Homo sapiens: one gene and its partner. The protein of the gene in region 2 interacts with the protein of the main gene of each other region in a pairwise test. Each region holds a gene or a part of one and is shown on either strand. Other genes may lie near its edges. The genes, in order: SLC25A17 and ABCD1.

Region 1 (3,814 bases), on a different chromosome or scaffold from region 2:
AATATTTCAATCAAATAAGTGAAAATAAGAAAAATTTTTCCTTTTTTTTTTTTTTTGAGACATCTTCTCACTCTGTCACCCAGGCTGGAGTGCAATGGCACAATTTTGGCTCACTGCAACCTCCACCTCCCAGGTTCAAGTGATTCTCCTGCCTCAGCCTCCCGAGTAGTTGGGATTATAGACATGTACCACCACGCCCGGCTAATTTTTGTATTTTTAGCAGAGATGTGGTTTCACCATGTTGGCCAGGCTGGTCTCGAATTCCTGACCTCAAATGATCCACCCACCTCGGCCTCCCGAAGTTCTGGGATTACAGGCATGAGCCACCATGTCCGGCCTAAGAAAAATTTTTCAATGAAGCAAGCATAATAATTTTCATTTTATAGAGAGGTATAGGGAAAATTCTACCTCAAAAGAAAAAAATATGCCCAGGATGATGATTTAGATATTGATGGTAATAACTTCCACTTCTTTAAGAAATTCTGAGAAATGAATCATTTAGAACATCTGCAGTCTAAGCTCTTCAGATTATGTGTTTACATTATAAAAGTGTTAAAATACATTTATAAGGATGCTACTGAATTCCCTTATGTTAAGTACCAATTTTAAAATAATATATTAGTAAAAATGCTTTTAACAGAAGGTACTAATTTTTCTGAACTGGAATATTCTCACTACCACCCCTATTTTATCTAGCAACAAGCCTTTTGAAATTTTTCTCCAAAACAGATCTTGAATCTGTCCTCATCCTACCCCTCTCCTCTCCAGTGCCACCACCGTGGTCCAGGCCACCATCCTCTCTTGCCTGTATTACTGAAATGGCCTCCTACTAGATTGCCCCTGGCTTTCTCTCTTAGCTTTCTGACCAATTCACCACATAATAGCCACAACAGTCTTCTTCAATTGTAAATCACAGCACATATTCCCCAGCTTAAAGCCCTTCCCATCACATATTCTCAGCTTAAAGTGCTGAGGATAAAAATCTACATTCCTCACCTACAGTTTCCCTGCTGCTCTTGCAATCTCACCCTGAGCCACTCTACTGCCATAGAGGCCTTCTTTCAGTCCCTAGGATACACCAAATTCTTAGTACATTGATATGGTTTGGCTGTGTCCCCATCCAAATCTCACCTTGAATTGTAATAATCCCCACAAGTCAAGGGCAGGGCCAGGTGGAGATAACTAAATCATGGGGGTGGTTTCCCCTATACTGTTCTTGTGGTAGTGAATAAGTCTCATGAGATCTGATGGTTTTTTTTTTTTTTTTTTTTTTTTTTTTTTTTTTTTTTGAGACGGAGTCTCGCTCTGTCGCCCAGGCCGGACTGCGGACTGCAGTGGCGCAATCTCGGCTCACTGCAAGCTCCGCTTCCCGGGTTCACGCCATTCTCCTGCCTCAGCCTCCCGAGTAGCTGGGACTACAGGCGCCCGCCACCGCGCCCGGCTAATTTTTTGTATTTTTAGTAGAGACGGGGTTTCACCTTGTTAGCCAGGATGGTCTCGATCTCCTGACCTCATGATCCACCCGCCTCGGCCTCCCAAAGTGCTGGGATTACAGGCGTGAGCCACCGCGCCCAACCGATCTGATGGTTTTATAGGAGGAGTTCCCCCTGCACTTGTCCTTGCTGCCGCCATGTGAAGAAGGACATGTTTGCTTCCCCTTCCACCATGATTGTAAGTTTCCTGAGGCCCCCCAGCCATGCTGAAATGTGAGTCAATTAAACCTCTTTCCTTTATAAATTACCCAGTCTCAGGCAGTCCTTTAGAGCAGCATGAGAATGGACTAACACACACATCATGCTCCCCCTGCCTGGAATGCACTTTCGTCCACTCTGCCCCACTAGGGCCTTACCCTCCTTTGCATCTTGATTTAAATATTCCTTCTCAAAGAAGCCCACCTCCAATCATGCTATCTAAGAAGAGCCCCACCATGCCCCTCTCCAGTAAATAATTTCCTTTATAGTTCTTTTTTCAATTTGTAATTACCTATTTATTTTGCTTGTTTACCTGTTCATTCTCTCTTCCACTAGCTCCATAAGGGCAGGGATTATGACTTTTATTTACCACTGCATGCCCAGGTCCTCCCACAGTGTGGATGCTTAGTAAATATTTGAATGGATAAATAACTGAATGAAATAAAAAACAGAAGTTTGAGAGTGCTTCAAAAAAGCTAAATCATTCATTCCTCCTGAGTGAACTAAAGGAATTAACCTCTGACTTTGTAAAGGATAATCCCTGCTGGGGCACCAAACCAATCAACTTGAATGAGAAGGAAGCAAACTTATGCTTTCCTGAGGTCTTTAAGGAACTTGTCTCCACATCTGTGTTTTCTGAGACATTATGTTACCTAAGAAATTACAAATGCAAACTTCATTCTAAACCAATGACAGCCAGCCTAGTTAAGCAGAATATCAAACAAATGAAAAAATGGGGGCCAGGCACAATGGTTCATGCCTATAATCCCAGCACTTTGGAAGGCCAAGGTGGGAGGATCGCTTGAGTCCAGGACTTTGAGACAAGCCTGGAAAACATGGTGAGACCCCATCTTCACACAAAAAAATTTTAAATTAGCTGGACAAGGTGGTGTATGTAGTCTCAGCTACTTGGGCAGCTGAGGCAGGAGGACTGCTTGAACCTAGGAGGTCGAGGGTATAGAGACCCATGGTGCACCACGGTACTCCAACCTGGGTGACAGAGGGAGATCCTGTCTCAAAAAAAGAAAAGAAAAAAAACAGATAGGGAATATTCTGGTATACCAACTAACTGCTTTATTGCTTTATTAACATTGTTTTAAATCAAGAGACTACATGTATTCGAATGCTGTTTGACTAAATGCGAAGAGAACTCCAGCACTCACCCTCAGAATTGACTGTACCGTCTGCAGGGGATAGGTCACCGTGGTGGCAATCGCTTTGGCTACTGCACCAATGATGAACACATCCAAGGAAGAAAGCTGGAAAGCAAAGGAAGAACAAACCATATCAATCAAGTCAACAAGAAGGTGTCAGACAGAATTATTTTACTGCTTTCAAAATCAAGGATTACCTTCATCCGTTTCTTTAAAAGCTGCCGTTTTAAACCTTCATAAAACATGAACTGGATGGCAGGATTGAAGACCAACAGCAATGAGGGAAATGTGCCATTCCATAAAGCCGAGATTCCTTCATCGCGAATGATCTGATGAAAAGCATCTAAGCAAGAAATCAGGGACTTTTGAAAAGCATGATCACAATCCCCCAACTAGAGAAGACAACATGAATTCTGTTGAAATGTACCCAGAACACAAACCATACTGGTTCTATAAAGATTTCCTTCTTGCAGCCGGTTGCAATGGCTCACGCCTGTAGTCCCAGCACTTTGGGAGGCCGAGGCGGGTGGATCACGAGGTCAGGAGTTTGAGACCAGCCCAGCCAGCATGGTGAAACCCTGTCTCTACTAAAAATACAAAAATTAGCTAGGTGTGGCGGTGCATACCTGTAATCTCAGCTACTTGGGGGGCTGAGGCAGGAGAATTGCTTGAACCCGGGAGGCAGAGGTTGCAGTGAGCCAAGATTGTGCCACTGCACTCCAGCCTGGGTGACAGAGCAAGACTCCATTTCCAAAAAAAAAAAAAAAAAGATTTCTTTCTTGCAATGATAGTTTGGGGTCAAGTTTATCGGTTAATTACTTTTTGATAATCAGACATTGACAGTCACCAAGTTATTGAGAGACCAACTTCAATCACAGGCAACTGTTCCTGATGATCGAATCCTCCTAAGTCATTATCACCATCACTGGGAATTCTGGATTACACAGAACTGTGAACTGAGCCCACATA
Region 2 (3,814 bases):
CATGTGGCCCATGGCAGTCCCACTGGCTGATGTCCCCGTGGACACTGGCCTAGGCTCAGATCAGGGCAGAAGCAGCTGACTGGCTGGAGGGCACATAGCAGAGTATTCTGTCCTTTCTGGGATTGCCGCGAGGAGGCTTATTGAAACGCACATGCACACGATCTCTTGTTTGAGAACAAAGTAAAGCTCTCTTGATAAGTCTAAGCATCATTTACAAGAATGTGGTTCTTCTGGCAGCTCTGCCAGTGTGGTCCAAATTCCCACACTGGTTGCCACCATCAGGCTGTATGGGCTTGGGCAGGTCACTTTGCCTCCCTGGGCTTCAGTGTTCTGTGTACAGTGGGCACGTGAATACACATGCAGTGGGATGTGGGGAGAATCAAATGCAGAGACGTGAAAGCACTTGGCAAACAGTGGCAGGCTAGGCAGCTGTCATCAGACGGCTGTGGGGAGGCAAGGCTGGGGTGCGTGCCCCTGGACTGAGCCCAGAAATTCACAACCCCTTGGCTACCTTGCTGGGAGCACTTCCCAACACCTCCCATCTCCCCCGCCTGTCTGACTGCTGCTGCCACCTCTTCCCTGCGGCTGTCCCTTTCCCCACCTGCTGGTGTCCTGACATAGTGGTGGCCAGTGCAGGAAGGGGGACAGAAGGACAGGGGAGGCCTACCCACTGCTGAGGGAGCAAGGTCCAGGCTCAGCAGTGGGGACATCCACTGGGGCGAGTCCTGTAGGGCCCAGCTCAGGAGCGCATCCTCCTGGTTTCAGTGGGAAAATGCCATGCAAATTTCTCACCAAAAGGAAGTGTGGGAAAGTTGAGGGGAAAGAGGGCGTAAATAGGCCCAGACTGTTGAACCGAGTTTTTCAGAACCAAGAGACAGGGTTTCACTGTGCTGCCCAGGCTGGGGTGCAGTGGCGCCATCACTGCAGCTTCAAACTCCAGGGCTCCCGCGATCCTCCCACCTCAGCCTCCCGAGTAGCTGGGACTACAGGTGTGTGCCACCACACCTGGCTAATTTTTTTTTTTAATTATTTTTGGTAGAGACAGCATCTCGCCGTGTTGGCCAGGCTGGTCTCCAACTCCTGGGCTCAGGCAATCCTCCCACCTCAGCCTCTCAAAGTGCTGGGATTGCAGGTGTGAGCTACTGCACTCAGCCCAAGAGCACTGCCTTTTGCTGTCCTGCGCTGCTCTTTGCTTAGTTTAGGGGGGGAAATTAGAGCTGATGGATGATCTCTCCGAGCCAGGAGGAGGGGGCTGGCAGGGAGCCCAAAGAAATGGGCTCAGCAGAGGACAGAAACAAGGTGACTAGAGAGGGAGTGGAGAGGGGACGGGAGCCGCACTGTGACATCAGCCAGTCCCTTATACCCCCTTACACCTTGAGTTTGAGACCTGGCCCCACCCAATCGTAACCTCTGGCTCTCGGCCTTCTGATGGCCACCATGGCACAGCGTGTGTGAGTGGCACTGGGAGACCCTGACCATCGCCCCCACGGGAGCTGCCCCTGTGCATGGCCAGGAAGCCTCTCTGTGTCTGTCACCCCCCGCAGGTGGAGCTGGCCCTGCTACAGCGCTCCTACCAGGACCTGGCCTCGCAGATCAACCTCATCCTTCTGGAACGCCTGTGGTATGTTATGCTGGAGCAGTTCCTCATGAAGTATGTGTGGAGCGCCTCGGGCCTGCTCATGGTGGCTGTCCCCATCATCACTGCCACTGGCTACTCAGAGTCAGGTGAGACCCAGGGCTCCAAGAGGATCCAGGCCAGGGGCCTGTCCCCCATACCGCTGGGTGCTGAGCTCACGAGGGCCCAACTCAGCCAGCCCGCCGCCCACTTCTGCTGCCGGGGCCACCGAGGCCCTGCTGCCAGCCTTGATGCTTTCAGAGGTTGAGCTCGCCTTGCCCCTCCTTGTTGCCTTTTGCCCTGCGCGCACCTCACGCCCTTTGTTACCACTCAGACAAGCCCAGGACTGCAAGTCAGGAACACTACATGTCACTTCTCCAGGCACAGATACCCTCACCCACCTGTCCCTGTCCTCAACCCAACTGCGACTTAGAGGTGGGAGAATGTGCGGAGTACCTGGAGTGAGCCCCTTCATCACTCCAGCCTTGGTTTCCTCGCCCTGAAACAGCTCTTGCACCCTAAGGTGTTTTAGAGGAGTGGGAAGCCTGTTCTACCTGTTATTTTAGTGATAAGATTAAATGTTTAGGTTTCTGCATTCCTGTTGTTTTTGTTTGTTTGTTTTATTTTCTTTTTGGCTTTTGAAACAGGAGTCTGACTGTCGCCCAGGCTGGAGTGCAGTGGCGCGACCTTGGCTCACTGCAGCCTCAACTTCCCAGGCTCAAGTGGTCCTCCCACTTCAGTCTCCCCAGTCGCTGGGACTACAGGCACAAGCCGCCGTACCTGGCTAATTTTAATATTTTTGGTAGAGACAGGGTTTCGCCATGTTGCCCAGACTGGTCTCGAACTCCTGGTCAGGTGATCCTCCCGCCTCAGCCTCCCAAAGTGCTGGGATTACAGGTGTGAGCTGCCGCGCCCGGCCTGCATTCCTGTTTTGTTCCTCTGCCGGATTGCAACTTCTGCATTTGATTTTTAGTCCATTAGTGGTCACCCTTTAAAAGGTCAACACGCAGCCGGGCGCGGGGGCTCCCGCCTGGCATCCCAGCACTTTGGGAGGGTGAGGCGGGCAGATCACGAGGTCAGGAGGTCGAGACCATCCTGGCTAACAGGGTGAAACCCCATCTCTACTAAAAATACAAAAATTTAGCCGGGCGCGGTGGCGGGCGCCTATAGTCCCAGCTACTCGGGACGCTGAGGCAGAAGAATGGCGTGAACCCGGGAGGCGGAGCTGGCAGTGAGCCCAGATAGCGCCACTGCACTCCAGCCTGGGCGAAAGAACGAGACTTCGTCTCAAATAAAAATAAAAATAAAAAATAAAAGATCAACACGCATACTTGTTAGGTTAATCAATAGCTCCGCCTTCTCCTGGACCTTAGAACGCAGAAGCAGCCCCGTGGGGCATGGCATCATAGCCCAGCCAAGAGTTGGATTTGTACCTAGTTTTTCCTCTTTGCTATCGCCTTATCCACACGTGTTGAAACTCACTCGCATGTTTGCTGAGTTCTGTGCTCACCATTTCGTTCCTACATCTCAATTTCTCTTCTATGTTCTGTTATCTTCCTCCAGATAGACATGTTTTTAGTTTTTTGTTTGTTTGTTTTTTAACTCACAACTATGCTCAGGACAAACAGTCATCAGTGCTTCTAGTTGTGGTTGGTTTTTAAAAAAGGTTCTTTCAGCAAGGGTTTTGTCATGGGAAATTCTTGATTATTTTATTGTAATTCTTTGTGTTGTTTAGTTTTTTGTTTGTTTGTTTGTTTTTTGTAGAGGCAGGTTCTCGCTGTGTTGCCCAGGCTAGTGTGGAACTCCTGGGCTCAAGCGGTCCTCCCGCATTAGCCTCTCAAAGTGCTGGGATTACAGACGTGAGCCACCACACCCAGGCTGTTGTCATTCTTGATTATTTTTGTTGAAAATGTTTCTATTTCACCCTTATTCCCAAGCTAAAGTTGAGTTGCGCAATGGAGTCTAGGTGGACTGTTCTTTTCTCTCAGCCCTTTCACAATGTCTCATTGTCTCCCTGCTTCTTCTGTAGCTGCTGACAAATCTGTAGCTGCTAACAAATTGTCCTCCCTGAGTACCCTGTGTTTCTTTTTTTCTGGGTACTTTGATCACTTTCTTTCTTTTTGGCATTCTGCAGTTTCACTATGACATGTTTAGGTGTCAGTTTTTGTTGATTCTGCTTGAGACTTGTTATATGTCCTT

Evidence for each region.
Region 1: the proteins of ABCD1 (region 2) and SLC25A17 come close enough for resonance energy transfer, tested with the Homo sapiens proteins (one large-scale study listed by BioGRID).

What each region holds. Positions count from the first base shown.
Region 1 is NC_000022.11:40,774,186-40,777,999, forward strand, and holds part of SLC25A17 (peroxisomal membrane protein PMP34), read right to left. Parts: intron 3,189-3,814; coding exon 3,043-3,188; intron 2,951-3,042; coding exon 2,855-2,950; intron 1-2,854.
Region 2 is NC_000023.11:153,727,688-153,731,501, forward strand, and holds part of ABCD1 (ATP-binding cassette sub-family D member 1), read left to right. Parts: intron 1-1,544; coding exon 1,545-1,725; intron 1,726-3,814. UniProt on the Homo sapiens protein: ATP-dependent transporter of the ATP-binding cassette (ABC) family involved in the transport of very long chain fatty acid (VLCFA)-CoA from the cytosol to the peroxisome lumen.